Linked DNA regions of Homo sapiens. The protein of the gene in region 1 binds, or shares a complex with, the protein of each later gene. Each region holds a gene or a part of one and is shown in the gene's direction. Other genes may lie near its edges.

What was found.
Region 2: the proteins of RAB11FIP3 (region 1) and RAB11A are in contact, whole or in part, in a crystal structure (PDB 2HV8), measured with the Homo sapiens proteins. Residues at the interface, in NP_055515.1 of Homo sapiens: Asn731, Phe732, Gln735, Ile738, Asp739, Arg740, Ile742, Val743, Met746, Glu747, Pro750, Ser751, Leu753, Glu754, Val755, Lys756; in NP_004654.1 of Homo sapiens: Arg33 (codon at 4,898), Ile44 (codon at 4,931), Gly45 (codon at 4,934), Val46 (codon at 4,937), Glu47 (codon at 4,940), Phe48 (codon at 4,943), Ala49 (codon at 4,946), Thr50 (codon at 4,949), Trp65 (codon at 4,994), Arg72 (codon at 5,015), Arg74 (codon at 5,021), Ala75 (codon at 5,024), Ile76 (codon at 5,027), Ala79 (codon at 5,036), Tyr80 (codon at 5,273), Arg82 (codon at 5,279).

What each region holds. Positions count from the first base shown.
Region 1 is NC_000016.10:420,731-428,778, forward strand, and holds the start of RAB11FIP3 (rab11 family-interacting protein 3), read left to right. Parts: upstream 1-4,918; 5' UTR 4,919-5,276; coding exon 5,277-5,990; intron 5,991-8,048. UniProt on the Homo sapiens protein: Downstream effector molecule for Rab11 GTPase which is involved in endocytic trafficking, cytokinesis and intracellular ciliogenesis by participating in membrane delivery. Recruited by Rab11 to endosomes where it links Rab11 to dynein motor complex.
Region 2 is NC_000015.10:65,872,491-65,879,756, forward strand, and holds part of RAB11A (ras-related protein Rab-11A), read left to right. Parts: intron 1-4,841; coding exon 4,842-5,037; intron 5,038-5,271; coding exon 5,272-5,465; intron 5,466-7,180; coding exon 7,181-7,261; intron 7,262-7,266. UniProt on the Homo sapiens protein: The small GTPases Rab are key regulators of intracellular membrane trafficking, from the formation of transport vesicles to their fusion with membranes.

The sequences.
Region 1 (8,048 bases):
ACACTTCACAACAGACAACAGGCTCCACTGAAGCCGTTCGGCTCTTCTTCCAGAGAAGTACAAATCCCCGAAGGAAACAAGGTCTTTCCATCTCCCTGCGGACATGTGCAGTTTCTCCGGCAGGTACTGGAAGGCGGATCCCACACTGGAGTATTCCGACCTTCAGCTGCACGACTGGTGCCAAATCCCCACTCCCTGGTGTCCCCAGACTTACTCTGATTGGTGTCAAGGGCTACACTCACACATTTTCCTGGTGACCAGTGAAGATGAGCATCTTTTTCATGTGTTTACCGGCCACCTGAATTTCCTCTTCTGGAGCTGCTTATTCATATTCTTTCCTCGTTTTTCTATCGGGTTGCTGTTCGTTTACTGTTTTTTGAGAAATTCTTTTGTGTATTCTAGAAATGAATATTTTGTCCATTAAATCCATTCTAACTCTCTCTTCCCAGTTGCTACCCCAAAATTTATATATTGGAGTCCTAACGCCAACGGGATGGTATTTGGAGATGAGGTCTTTGGGAGGTATAACTTAGGGTTAGGGCCGGGCGCGGTGGCTCACGCCTGTAATCCCAGCACTTTGGGATGCCGAGGCGGGTGGATCATGAGCTCAGGAGATCGAGACCATCCTGGTTAACACGGTGAAACCCCGGCTCTAGTAAAAATACAAAACAATTAGCCAGGCATGGTGGCGGGTGCCTGTGGTCCCAGCTACTGGGGAGGCTGAGGCAGGAGAATGGCATGAATCCGGGAGGCAGAGATTGCAGTGAGCTGAGATGGCGCCATTGCACTTCAGCCTGGACGACAGAGCAAGACTCCGTCTCAAAAAAAAATAATAATAATAATAATTAGGGTTAGATACGGTCAGCAAGGTGGGGCCCTCACGATGGGAACAGTGCCCTTATTAGAAGAGACAGTCTTTTTTTTTCTTTTTTCTTTTTTTGAGACGGAGTTTCACTCTTGCTGCCCAGGCTGGAGTGCCATGGCACAATCTCGATTCACTGCAACCTCCGCCTCCCAGGTTCTAGTGATTCTCCTGCCTCAGCCTCCCAAGTAGCTGGGATTACAGGCATGCACCACCATGCCTGGCTAATTTTTTGTATTTTTAGTAGAGATGGGGTTTCACCATGGCAAGCCTGGTCTTGAACTCCTGACCTCAGGTAATCCACCCGCATCGGTCTCCCAGAGTGCTGGGATTACAGGCGTGAGGCACCGTGCCCAGCCTTATTTTTATTTTATTGTTTTCCTTGAGATGGAGTTTCCCTCTTGTTGCCCAGGCTGGAGTGCAATGGTGGGATCTTGGCTCACTGCAACCTCCACCTCCCGGGTTCAAGTATTCTCCTGCCTCAGCCTCCCAGGTAGCTGGGATTACAGGACACGCCACCACGCTCAGCTAGTTTTTGTATTTTTAGTAGAGACAGGGTTTTACCATGTTGGCCAGGCTAGTCTCGAACTCCTGACCTCAGGTTATCCACCCGCCTTGGCCTCCTAAAGTGTTGGGATTACAGGCGTGAGCCATTACGCCCGCCTTTTTTTTTTTTTTGAGATAGTCTCGCTCTGTTGCCCAGGCTGGAGTGTAGTGGCTGGATCTCAGCTCATTGCAACCTCTGCCTCCCAGGCTCAAGTGATTACCCTGTTCAGCCTCCTGAGTAGCTGGGATTACACGCACCCGCCACCGCCCCCGGATAATTTTTTTTCTTTTTTTTTGAGACAGAGTCTCACTCCATCACCCAGGCTGCAGTACAGTGGTGTGATCTTGACTCACTGCAACCTCCACCTCCCGGGTTCAAGCAATTCTTTGCCTCAGCCTCCTGAGTAGCTGGGATTACAGGTGCCCGCCACCACGGCCGGCTAATATATACATATATTTTTTAGGTGGAGTCTCGCTCTGTCGCCAGGCTGGAGTGCAGTGGTGCGATCTTCGCTCACTGCAACCTCTGCCTCCCAGGTTCAAGCGATTCTCCTCCCTCAGGCTCCCGAGTAGCTGGGACTACAGGTGGGTGCCACCACACCCGGCTAATTTTTGTATTTTTAGTAGAGACAGGGTTTCACCATGTTTGCCAGGATGTTTTCGATCTCTTGACCTTGTGATCCGCCCACCTTGCCTCCCAAAGTGCTGGGATTATAGGCTGAGCAACCGCGCCCGGCCTAAATTTTCTATTTTTTAGTAGATACGGGGTTTCACCATCTTGGCCAGGCTGGTCTTGAACTCCTGACCTCGTGATCCACCCGCCTCGGCCTCCCAAAGTGCTGGAATTACAGGCATGAGCTCCCACGCCCAGCCCAAAAGAGACAATCTTTCTCCAACATGTGAGGACAGAGTGAGAAGATGGAGGCTATGCTTTGAATGTTTATACCCTCCAAAACGCATGTTGAGGCCAAGTGTGGTGACTCATGCCAATAATCCCAGCACTTTGGGAGGCCGAGGTGGGCGGATCACTTGAGGTCAGGAGTTTGAGACCAGCTTGACCAACATGGTGAAACCCCGGTCTCTACTAAAAATACAAAAAATTAGCCGGCCTTGGTGGCATACGCCTGTAATCCCAGCTACTCAGGAGGCTGAGGTAGGGGAATCACTTGAACCCGGGAGGCGGAGGTTGCAGTGACCAGAGATCGCGCCATTGCACTCCAGCCTGGGCGACAGAGTGAGACTCCATATCAAAAAAAAAAAAAAGATAATAAGGTGCTGCAGATCTGTGGTCTCAGCTACTGGAGAGGCTGAGGTGGGAGGATCTCTCTTCTATTTTTATTTTTTATTTTGGAGACGGAGTCTTGCTCTATCATCCAGGCTGGAGTGCAATGGTGCAATCTTGGCTCGCTGCAAGCTCTGCCTCCCGGGTTCACGCCTTTCTCCTGCCTCAGCCTCCCAAATAGCTGGGACTACAGGTGCCTGCCACCACACCTGGCTAATTTTTGTTTTTTTGTATTTTTAGTAGAGACGGGGTTTCACCGTGTTAGCCAGGATGGTCTCCATTTTCTGACCTCGTGATCCGCCCGCCTCAGCCTCCCACAGTCCTGGGATTACAGGCATGAGCTACCACACCTGGCCTAAGGTGGGAGGATCTCTTGAGCCTAGGAGGTTGAGGCTGCCGTGAGCTATGGTCGCACCACTGCACTGCAGCCTGGGCAACAGAGCAAAACCCTGTCTCGGGGAAAAAAAAGAAAAGAAAAGAAAAGAAGGAACTGCTACAGCCCACAGCCTACAAAGGGGACACAGATAGTAGCTCTGAACAGCAGACGGATAGACGGGAACTTGTCCCTTTAGTCTTTCATGAACAGCCTCTAACTGGTCCAGGCAGGGAGGTGCAGGCTTCCAGGCTGTGGTTCCATGGAGGACACCAGCCGGGCACGCAATGGACGTTTTCCAGCCCTAGCACAGACAGAGCGTGCGGGCCCCTGCTCTCAGAAAGCCAGCCTTCTGCCTCTGGCAGCGCCGGCACATAAAAGCAGAGGGAGCCTGCTGTCTCTGCCTCGCCCACACTAACACCCCTATTTAGAAAGGTTGACACATCACTATCACTGCTTCTGAAAATTTTATCCGGCCGAAGGCATCAGCCCAAATTTGAATTCTTGCCAAAGCTGCTGGTGATTTCGTTCTTTGAATGCAGTATCTTCCTCATGAACACGTACAGCTCTTACAAGAAAATGAGAATACGGTTTGGGGAGGAGGATCCCTCACATTCCTTTTCCTAATGCCAGCCTCGCGAAGTCTGGTCCCATGTACCCTGGGATTCTGCCACGGAAGATGACTCACTTAATTAACACGCTGCTCCTGACCGTACACTTGGAAGCAGAGGTTCCGTTCCTTTGGTTCTTGCCAAAGCTGCTTACGAAACCATATCTTGTGTTGGTGCCCATGGTGTGTAAAAATACAAGTTCATCATTTCCCTGATACAAATTATGACAGGCTAAATTTAGTGCCTCACCTGTCCTAACTAGCTTTCCCACCATCATGCCTGCCGCCGGGCTGTGGTCCTTTCTGAGGTCCCGTGTCCCTCTGAGGACAGGGACACCCAGACACAGAGGTCAGTTGTCAGACGCGGCCACGGTGCTCGGGAGGCTGGCTGCAGACGGGCGATTCACCCTGGGTGTCTTCTTGAGTCTTATTTTTTGTAGAGACGAGGTCTCGCTTTGGTGCTCAGGCTGGTCTCAATCTCCTGGGCGCAAGCGATCCTCCCGCTTGGGCGTGGGCCAGCGCGCCCGTCCCAACGCTGGGAGTCCCGGAGATCTTGGTCACAGGCTTAAGGGAAAGGCCTAGCGCGTGGCCGCGCGTGCCTCTGGTTTCAAGGGACATGGACTGCGTGTCTGGGGCCCCTCCGCACTCCGTGTCAGACCCTGCGTCCCCCGGGTCCGCGCGGGACCCGGGCAGGGCGTCGCCCTCTGCGGCGTCTGCGCCCCGCGAACCCTGGGGCACCTGCAACCCCTGGGCCGCGGAGCCAGGCGTGCGCCGCCTCCTGGTCTCATCAACGTGAGAACGCTTTACCCCCGAAGAGCTCAGCTCCTAGGGGGCTATGTCCCTTTGCGTCTCTCGCTCGCCAGGCGGTGCCGTTTACTCGACCGCACCATGCGTGGGTAGCGGTCGCGCCCGCTGGTAGCTGTGCGGCGGGAACACGTTCTAAGTAAGGCCTGACTCCGCGCGCCTCTTGCCAGGGACGTCACGTCACGCCTCCACTCGCAGCCTCGGAGCACCCCCGCGTCCCGCGCCCGAAGCTCGGGACCCCCGCTCTGGCGAAACGAGGAATATGACATACAGCAAAACACCCCTTCGCGGCCGCTGCACTGCCGCGACACACCCGGCGCCTGCCTCTACAGCAAGCCGGCGAGGGGCTGGGACCCCGCCGGGACGTGCTGACGTCAGGCCCGACGGGGGGCGGGGCCTGGGCGGCGGCGGCGTTAGTTCTCCGGGTACCTCAGGCGCCTCAGCCTCCTTAGTCTCCTCATCCTGCTTCACAGGCTCCGCGGCCTCCGGCCTCCTCGGCCCCCGTCCCCCGGCCTCCTCGGCCCCCGTCCCCCGCCATCCGCCGCCCGGATCCTCGCCGCCCTCCCTAGGCCGCCCCGCCGCCATGGGCCTGCGCCCGCCGCGCCGCCGGGCCGAGGGCAGCTGAGGCGCGGTGCGAAGATGGGCGAGGACAGAGCAGGGCCCGAGCGCCAGCCCCAGCAGCCCGGGCGCCCCGCGCGCGCCCGCCCGCGCCGCCGAGGGGATGCCCGCGCCCGCCGCCGCGCCCTGAGCGCCTTTGTCTGCCGCCCGCGCCCTTCCGCACCACTAGCCTCTCGGGAGCATGGCGTCGGCCCCGCCGGCCTCGCCCCCGGGCTCGGAGCCGCCGGGGCCCGACCCGGAGCCGGGCGGGCCGGACGGGCCGGGGGCGGCACAACTGGCTCCGGGCCCTGCGGAGCTACGCCTCGGAGCGCCCGTCGGCGGCCCCGACCCGCAGTCCCCGGGCCTGGATGAGCCTGCGCCCGGGGCCGCTGCAGATGGCGGGGCGCGTTGGAGCGCCGGGCCGGCCCCGGGGCTGGAGGGAGGCCCGCGAGACCCCGGGCCGTCCGCCCCGCCGCCGCGCTCCGGCCCGCGGGGGCAGCTTGCGAGCCCCGACGCCCCGGGCCCAGGGCCGCGCTCCGAAGCGCCGCTTCCAGAACTCGACCCGTTGTTCTCCTGGACTGAGGAGCCCGAGGAGTGTGGCCCCGCGAGCTGCCCGGAGAGCGCGCCTTTCCGCTTGCAGGGGTCCAGCAGCAGCCACCGAGCGCGGGGCGAGGTCGACGTCTTCTCTCCCTTCCCCGCGCCCACGGCGGGCGAGCTGGCGCTGGAGCAAGGTCCCGGGTCCCCGCCGCAGCCCTCGGACCTCAGCCAGACCCACCCCCTTCCGAGCGAGCCCGTGGGGAGTCAGGAGGACGGCCCCCGCCTCCGAGCCGTGTTCGATGCCCTGGACGGGGATGGGGACGGTTTCGTCCGCATCGAGGACTTCATCCAGTTTGCTACGGTCTACGGGGCAGAGCAGGTACGGAGCGGCCCGGGCCGGGGCGTGGGAACTGGGCAGGTGCGCGCTGGCCGGCGGGGTTGATGTGGGACCGGTCGACGCTGCCCCTGGAGTCGGGAAAGGCACTGTCAAGACCTGACGGTCCTGCTTTTTCTGCTTATTCACCACTTCGGCCCTGGATTTCTGGTTGAATTGCGCTGGAGTCCCTCTTCCCTTCTTAAAAGGAGGTTCTATTCTGGGGAGTCAGTTTCTTCCCCTCCCCCCAGCGCCTCGTCAGCTGGATCTTACCGAGGTCAGCTCCTCGCCTGGGGACACCCCCCCAGGGGGCCTGATCGCCACCCCCCCAGGGTGCCTGATCGACGTGCCCCTGAATGAAGAAGTTCCCCGCGATTCCCCCACCCGAGGGCCCAGATACTGCTCGGCTGAATTCACCCAAGTTCTAGCCGCAGAGGCCAGGCTGCCCAGACGCCTTGAGATCCTACTGATAGACACCTATTTTGAGTACAATTACTTTACTGTGTGTGGTTGACATCTTTTCTACTTAGATTTCATCTTTTATTTGGGAGACAGTCAATGCTTGTAGAGAGTCCTGGAATTAAGAATTTTTACTTTGGTGCCTTTGGGGAGGAAGGCAATGAGCCTCGGAGCTTGTTGGCAAATGCAGAAGTCTAGCAGAACTCCGTTAGGGCCACGTCCACTCTCGTAGGAGAGGTGAAATGCGTGGACAGGCACTACGCACAGTACAGTGTGGAAGGGGTCCACGCGGTCCTCAGGGCACCTGCTCCTGGGGGAAAGGTGGGCCCCAAGATGCAGTTGTTCCTGTCTACCTCAGCACTTAATAAAGTTTAAGTGGAGATAACAGCAGGGCCGTGTGTGTTCTGCCAATAACCCGGTGGACATCAAATAATACCAGTGCTCACTTTTAAATATTTTACTTAGCAGGAAATCCCTAAGGTGCATCTGTCAATTTTTTGTATTTTGACTTCTCACACATGCAGACATCTGGTAAGTGGGTGTTCAAGTACATATGCATGTTTAAGCCAAGAGGTCTGTAAGAAAAGAGGTAAAATTGGCACACTGCTATTTAGGGTGTCAGTCATAACATTAAGAACCTTGATGGTCGGGCGCGGTGGCTCATGCCTGTAATCCCAGCACTTTAGGAGGCCGAGGCGGGCGGATCACGAGGTCAGGAGATTGAGACCATCCTGGCTAATATGGTGAAACCCCGTCTCCACTAAAAAATACAAAAAAATTAGTCGGGCGTGGTGGCGGGCACCTGTACTCCTAGCTACTCGGGAGGCTGAGGCAGGAGAATGGCGTGAACCCGGGAGGCGGAGCTTGCAGTGAGCGGAGATCGCGCCACTGCACTCCAGCCTGGGCGACAGAGCGAGACTTCGTCTCAAAAAAAAAAAACAGCAACAAAACAAAAAACACAGGGTCCTGATAAATCAGGGTTCCTTGCTGAGTTCACATTAAGAAGATGTGCAGACAGGTGCGTGCGGGGCAGCCTGCAATGCTCGCAAGCTTAGCTCCGGTTGGGATATTGTCAGGGTAGTTTTCCACCTACACTAATGGGCAGTGAAATATGTGACTGATACTTTCCTGTATGGTCAGCGTGGATGGTGGTTGCTGGTCCAGGTGTTTTGCTGCGTTTCCTTCTTGCCCCTGGGCTGGAGAGCACCTTGAGCTCCCTTGGTTGCTGTTGGCTACTGCGCTGTCTCTTCTCCCAAACATACTCTTGCTTCAGTACAGCAAAGAAGTTAGGAGAGTACCACATTTGCTCCTTGTTACCATAACCCAACTCTTGATAGAGAACTTCTGTGAGGCTCAGGATGTTTCCACTGGATCATACCACAGTTCTCTGAGATAGTAGGTAAGCAGGATTCATCCCCACTTTACAGGTAAGAAACTGGAAACCCAGAAAGGTCAGATAGCTCTCCCAAGGTCTCACAGGAGTAGAACTAGGTCTTTTGGCCCTTAGACCTTAGATGCCTCTTCTTAGATGTGGTGGCTCACAATATCCCTATTGTGATAATATCTTACTGACTTTCATACAATTCTTTTTATTTGAGAAACATC
Region 2 (7,266 bases), on another chromosome or scaffold:
ATGACGCGATCTCGGCTCATTGCAACCTCTGCTTCCTGGGTTCAAGCGATTTTCCTGCCTCAGTCTCCCGAGTAGCTGGGATTACAGGCATGGACCACCACACCCGGCTAATTTTGTATTTCTAGTAGAGACGGGGTTTCTCCATGTTGGTCAGGCTGGTCTCGAACTCCTGACCTCAGGTGATCCGCCCGCCTGGGCCTCCCAAAGTGCTGGGATTACTGGTGTGAGCCACCGTGCCTGGCCAGATTTCTACTTTTTTAAAGCTCTTACAGGATATGAGTCACTTTTTCTTTTTCTTTTTTAACTTCAATGCTGATTATTTAGCCAATTTCTTATTTATACAAGTATCCTACTTTAAAGTGAAGCAAGAATGATTTTATTTCAAAATGGCTTTATTGTACAGAGATTTATTCACTGAGATGGACTGCAGCTGTTTCTACTTAGAAGGTTTACCTAGCAAATGCAATAGTTGAGGGAATTGGAGTTAGTTTGTAACTAACCAGTTCAAAATAAAGGGATATTTTGATTAATAGGGGATGGAGTGGTCTAAATAGGAATGTAATGTGGGGCGAGCAGGACAATTATTCTAAATTATGTGTTTGTTCTTGAACAGTAACCTTTATTTAAGCCCAATAGTGAGACTTTTGGTGGGAGGGAATTAGTTTTATTTTATTTAAAGTTGACTTTTTATTTTTAAAACTTTAATTCCTTAAGTATTTACGAACAATGTGGTTAAGGCCCTGTGGGACATAAGTAAGCATCAATCATGATTTCTGTTTACAAATATTGTGTGGTAGACACCAATCCACAGTTAGATTTTCTGAAAATATCTGGATACATAGTCTATTGCTTAAGACATTTTCTTTTCAATCACATTGGAGGTCAGTAGTAATTAACCATCAGCTGATTGTCAGTAGAAATTATCATAGGAACTTTGCTGTCTTGCATCTTGGTAGTAGTTTTTCTTTCACAAGTTTTGGTTGAGCAACTCAGATTCTGCTGAATCTGGAAAAACTTGTCTAGACTTGAGCCTTATTGTATGCATTATATCTATATCTATATCTATATATATATATTTTTTGAGGCAGGGTCTCCCTCTGTTGCCCAGTCTGGAGTGCCATGGCACAGTCATAGCCCACTGCAGCCTCAAATTCCTGTGCTCAAGAAATCCTCCTGCCTCAGCCTCCCAAGTAGCTGCAACTACAAATGTGCTCCACCATGCCTGGCTATTTTTTTTTTTTTAAGACTATCCCACTTACAGAAATAAAATTTTCTTTTTTGTAGAGATAGGGTCTCCCTACGTTGCCCAGGCTGGTCTCAAACTCCTGGGCTCAAGGGATCCTCCCACCTTGGCCTCTCAGAGTGCTGAGATTACAGGCATGAGCCACTGTGTCCTGCCTTGAACGCATTGTATATTAAAAACTTTTGAGGAGGTTGGACTATGAATATAGTTGAAAGAATAGAAATGTCTCCAAATTTATGAAAACTAGAATGAAAATTACCAGTTATTCTCTCACGTGGTAACTTTTAGGGTTGAGGTACTGTCTTTGATGAATTATATTTTAGTCCAGTAAATTAGTTTGCAAGAGAAAGTATAAAACTAAATGTGGTTGAAGAGGCAGAAATTTTCAATGGATAATTAATATGTATATTCTGCTTTTATGCATTTAGCAGCTTGATATTCAGTATTAGGTATTTGCGATGATACTCAAATACAGCAGATGTCTAGTTGATAACTTTTTTTTTTTTTTTTGAGATGGAGTTTCACTCTTGTTGCCCAGGCTGGAGTGCAATGGCGCGATTTCAGCTTACTGCGATTTCAGCTTACTGCAACCTCCGCCTCCCGCTTCAAGCAATTCTCCTGCTTCGGCCTCCTGAGTAGCTGGGACTACGGGCATGCGCCACCACACCTGGCTAATTTTGTGTTTTTAGTAGAGATGAGGTTTCTCCATGTTGGTCAGGCTGGTCTCAAACTCCCGACCTCAGGTGATCCACCCTCCTTGGCCTTCCAAAGTGCTGGGATTACAGGTGTGAGCCACCACGCCCGGCCTAGTTGAGATAACTTTTTAAAACATTCATGAATTTTGAGTTATTTTCAGATTAGAGTGCTTTTTTTTTGTAGTGTTAACATTAATTGGTTACATTAAGAGAAAAGTTCCCTTGCTATCTTTATGATGGTATAAGGAGTTGAGATTGGTGAGATAATGAACATAATCATTAGTTAAAAGTGGAGGTCAAAAGGGAGGAAACCAAAACTTGAAAGTGCTGGAGTTGGCCGGGCATGGTGGCTCATACCTGTAATCCCAGTACTTTGGGAGGCCAAAGCGAGTGGATCTTTTGAGCCCTGGAGTTTGAGACCCAGCCTGGGCAACATGGCAAAACCCCATCTCTACAGAAAATACAAAAAATTAGCTGAGCGTGTTGGCATGTGCCTGTAGTTCCAGCTACTAGGGAGGCTGAGGTGGGAGGATCCTCTGAGCCTGGGAGGTCTAGGCTGCAGTGGGCTCTGCTTGTGCCGTGGCACTCCAGCCTGGGCGACAGTGAGACCCTGTCTCAAAAAAAGAAAGAAAGAAAGAAAGTGCTGGAAGTTTTTTTTTTGAGACAAGTTCTGGCTCTACTCCCCCGGCTAGAGTACAGTGGTGCACAGTCCAGGCTCACCACAACCTCTGCCTCCCAGGCTCAAGCCATTTGCCCACCTCAGCCTCCTGAGTAGTTGGGACTACAGGCATGCACCACCGTGCCTGTCTAATTTTTTTGTTTGTATTTATTCATGTATTTTTTGTGTATTTTTTTGTATTTAAATTTTTTTTTTTGTATAAGTGATTCAAAGGCCATTTCCTTAGCAAACATCCAGCCTTTTGTACTAAGAGGCAACAGTGAATGTATCCTATTAATAATAGACTATTAACTGAAACTGAGATTTGACTTCATATCCAGAATGGTGGACCTTGGAAACTAGTATATCAACTAACCATCCTATAAAATTGAAAGTGCATTGCTTTTGTACATCACTTTAATAACTTTGACATTTTCTTCTGATATCAAATAAAAGCATGTATGTGTTTGCCACAGCATCTTTGACACCCTCTAGTTGACTCTCTAGTTAGAAATAACCATTCTTTGTGCTGCATTGGATTCACTGCCTCCTGAATGATTTCTTGCTGAATCAGCTGACTGAGAAAGCCAGAAAGATATGCATTTGATAATGTACTCTGTCCAAGACTGTCCAGAGGCTAGCTTATATCCACTCCTGTGGCAAGGAGGGAATGTATAATGGACTCTCTTTGCCCTCTGACCAGAATGCAGTGAGCTCTCAGTTTTTACCATTCTTTCCACTCGTACCACCATCCCAGTCTCTTTAGTAAGGAATGGTCTTACTCCTTGGCCTTATTTTTGTATGTTTGATTTTCTAGTCCTGATGTCTAAATCAATTAGCTAGTTTAGATAAGAAGAAGTCTTAGTAGTCAAAAGTAGGAACGAATGTAATGTTTCCTGAAATGCTGATACCAATTTTTACAAAGGAAAAAATATCTAGCTCAGATTCTATAAACGTGTGAACTCATTTTGAACTTTAAATTCAGATAGAAAATGTTTTAAAACAACTTAACTGCCTGTTTCTCCATTGTTTTTGAAATTCTTAAGCGTAATACCACTTTGAGTGAAAAAGAATCTCCATGTATCTAGTTAGTAAATAAACTGCTGCCTATAGAAATCACAGGAAGCAAATTCATCTAATCAAGACCTATTTTCAAAAAAATCATGGAGTCATAAGTGAAAGTATATGCCCTCCTTGCTTTGTTGTATTTTATTTTATTTATTTTTTTAAGACAGAGTCTCAGTGTGTCGCCCAGGCTGGAGTGCAGTGACACAATCTCGGCCCACTGCAACCTCTGCTTCCCGGGTTCAAGCTATTCTCATGCCTCAGGCCCACAAGTAGTTGGGATTACATGCGCCCACCACCACACCTGGCTAATTTTTGTATTTTTATAGAGATGGGGTTTTCACCATGTTGGCCAGGCTAGTCTCGAACTCTTGGCGTCAAGCAATCCGCCCACCTTGGCCTTCCAAAATGCTGGGATTACAGGTGTGAGCCACCACACCCGGCACTTGCTTTGGTTTTGACTCACAGTATGTCAGAATTATTAGTTTCCTAATACCCCCTGTTTATCTGTAGTGGCTTGGGTTTTTTTGGCAGAGGGGTCTCTAACTTTGAACCAATCTGATAAATGCAACTATTAAAGGTCATTTTAGTTTCTGTGATCTGTATGGTGATGTTTATAAACCCTATGCCTCATATGTTAAATGTTTTTCATTTTGCCTAGGTCTCAGTCCTGAGGTCACACCCAGTCTTTGATGAAACGAAGTATATTCATTTTGTCCTTCCCTACCCACTAACAGCCTTTGTTGTTTTCATTTCTGATACATTACATTTTAATATCATAAATTATTCATTTAGTTTAGGATTTATCTTTGAAGTTGTTATCTTCTAAAGTAGTAAGATTGGCATAGCATTGACGGTAATTAATGCCTGTCATCAATGCCAAGGGCATCTGTGATTAAAACTGCATGTTTAAGACAGGGTACCGTATCTGTGCTAAGCAGATGATATGTGGAAGTCATGCAGGTAGAAACAGGTTGAAAAGAATAAATCGGTTTTATTGATTGGTAACTGGTCAAGAACATGCTGTTCAACCCCCTACCCCCATTCCTTTTTAAAAGTCATATACCTTATTTTTCTTGCTTTATTTACTCTGAAGCCAAACTTCATTCTGTTGAAAGCATAGTGGTGTTCTGAATATGTTTGCCTCATTCATCTGACATTGAATTCTTTGTCTTTCCAGTTGTCCTTATTGGAGATTCTGGTGTTGGAAAGAGTAATCTCCTGTCTCGATTTACTCGAAATGAGTTTAATCTGGAAAGCAAGAGCACCATTGGAGTAGAGTTTGCAACAAGAAGCATCCAGGTTGATGGAAAAACAATAAAGGCACAGATATGGGACACAGCAGGGCAAGAGCGATATCGAGCTATAACATCAGCGTAAGTCTCATGGTTTTTAAGTTCTGTGAAATGGGTTGCCATCGAGTGAATTAGCTGACTTTTGGTATTGGAAAAAGAACTGTTGTTTTTTTCTTTTAAGAATTCTAGTATTAGGAATCCTTAGAAATTTATTTATAAGTATGTTTTTAAAACTCATGATCCATATTTTGAGTTCTTCCTGGTGTTTGCTTCCATCTTGTGGTTTTCTGATACTAAATATGTTTCTGTTTTCAGATATTATCGTGGAGCTGTAGGTGCCTTATTGGTTTATGACATTGCTAAACATCTCACATATGAAAATGTAGAGCGATGGCTGAAAGAACTGAGAGATCATGCTGATAGTAACATTGTTATCATGCTTGTGGGCAATAAGAGTGATCTACGTCATCTCAGGGCAGTTCCTACAGATGAAGCAAGAGCTTTTGCAGGTTAGTGATAGGAATTCCATGATATTTCTTACCATTGTGTCTTGTGGTTTTGATACCTTCCAATGAGAGTAATAGGTTATAATAGTTTCAGAGAGGTAAACATGAATGCTTAGCAAGAATTGTTTTGAAAGTTTGTGATGACTGTATAGCTTTTTTGCTTTGAGTCATTAAAACACTAATATTTTGCTGCCAAAAAATGAATATAAACATTGTATATTCTGTCTCTTTTTCTGTTATGTTTCTGTGTTTACAAAGGCTGCTGTACGTGAGCTCTATGTGAGTGAAAGGCAGAGGCTCAGGGAGTGTCAGGGACCAACAGGGATGCAGCTGCTTAGGAGCTGTAACTTTTTGGCTTCATAAAGAATTCACGTGTCTCTTGCCCCTGTTCTGGTAGGGACAGCATGCCAGAAGACAACATTGTGCATTGTGGCTAGTGAAAGTCTTGCGGCCGGGCGTGGTGGCTCATGCCTGTAATCCCAGCACTTTGGGAGGCTGAGGTGAGTGGATCATGAGGTCAGGAGATTGAGACCATCTTGGCTAACATGGTGAAACCCCGTCTCTACTAAAAATACAAAAAACCGGGCGCGGTGGCGGGCGCCTGTAGTCCCAGCTACTCGGGAGGCTGAGGCAGGAGAATGGCGTGAACCCGGGAGCAGAGCTTGCAGTGAGCCGAGATAGCGCCACTGCAGTCCGGCCTGGGCGAAAGAGCGAGACTCCGTCCCAAAAAAACAAAACAAAACAAACAAAAAAAGAGAGAAAGTCTTGCCTTTGCACTAATGCTTATGCTATGAATAACTTTCTGTAACAGTTTTTTAAATTTCCCATGCAAGAATAGCTTTATTGTAAATAATATGGCTACAACATACGGAATACTATAGCCAATGTAGTTGATGGAGAGGATAGCAAGAGATGGAAATAACTGGGCACTTGATACATTTTTACCACATTTTAAGTGGTGTCATTCGTCACTAGTGAGTAGTACTTAGATATAACAAGTATTTATTTTAATTAAGGAGCCAATTGACAATTTCTCACTTTTTTTTTTTTTTTTTTTGGGAGCCAGGATCTCACTCTGTGACCCATTCTGGAGTGGAGTGGCACAGTCAAGGCTCACTGCAGCCTCGACCTCCTGGGCTCTAGTGATCTTCCACCTCAGCCTCCTAAGTAGCTGAGACTGCTGGTGTGTGTCACCACGCTCAGCTAATTTTTAGTATTCTTTATATAGAGAGAGCAAAACCTCTCTCCAGTGTTTTGCCATGTTGCCCAGGCTGGTCTTGAACTCCTGGGCTCAAGCAATCCGCCTGCCTTGGCCTGCCAAAGTCCTGGGATTACAGGAGTGAGCCACCATGCCCAGCTCTCTTGCTATTATTTTTAATCTATTAAAGTGTAAATATTAAAGTGTAAGTAGGGTCGGGCATGGTGGCTCATGCCTGTAATCTCAGCATTTTGGGAGATGGAGGCAGGAGAAACTCTTGAGGCCAGGAGTTCAAGACCAGGCTGGGCAACCTAGTGAGACCTGCATCTCTACTTATATAAAGAAGTAAATAAAGTAAGTAAATAAATAAAGTGTAAACAGAATGGTGCCCTTACTGTCCCAGAAGTTGAGGAGGTCTTAAGTTTTAAAAAGTTCTGTTATTTTTCCTTTTGAGGGCTTGAGTATATCCTATTCCTTGTTTTAAAACTTAACAAGACTGAACTTTTGTGTCTCCCCTCAGAAAAGAATGGTTTGTCATTCATTGAAACTTCGGCCCTAGACTCTACAAATGTAGAAGCTGCTTTTCAGACAATTTTAACAGGTAAG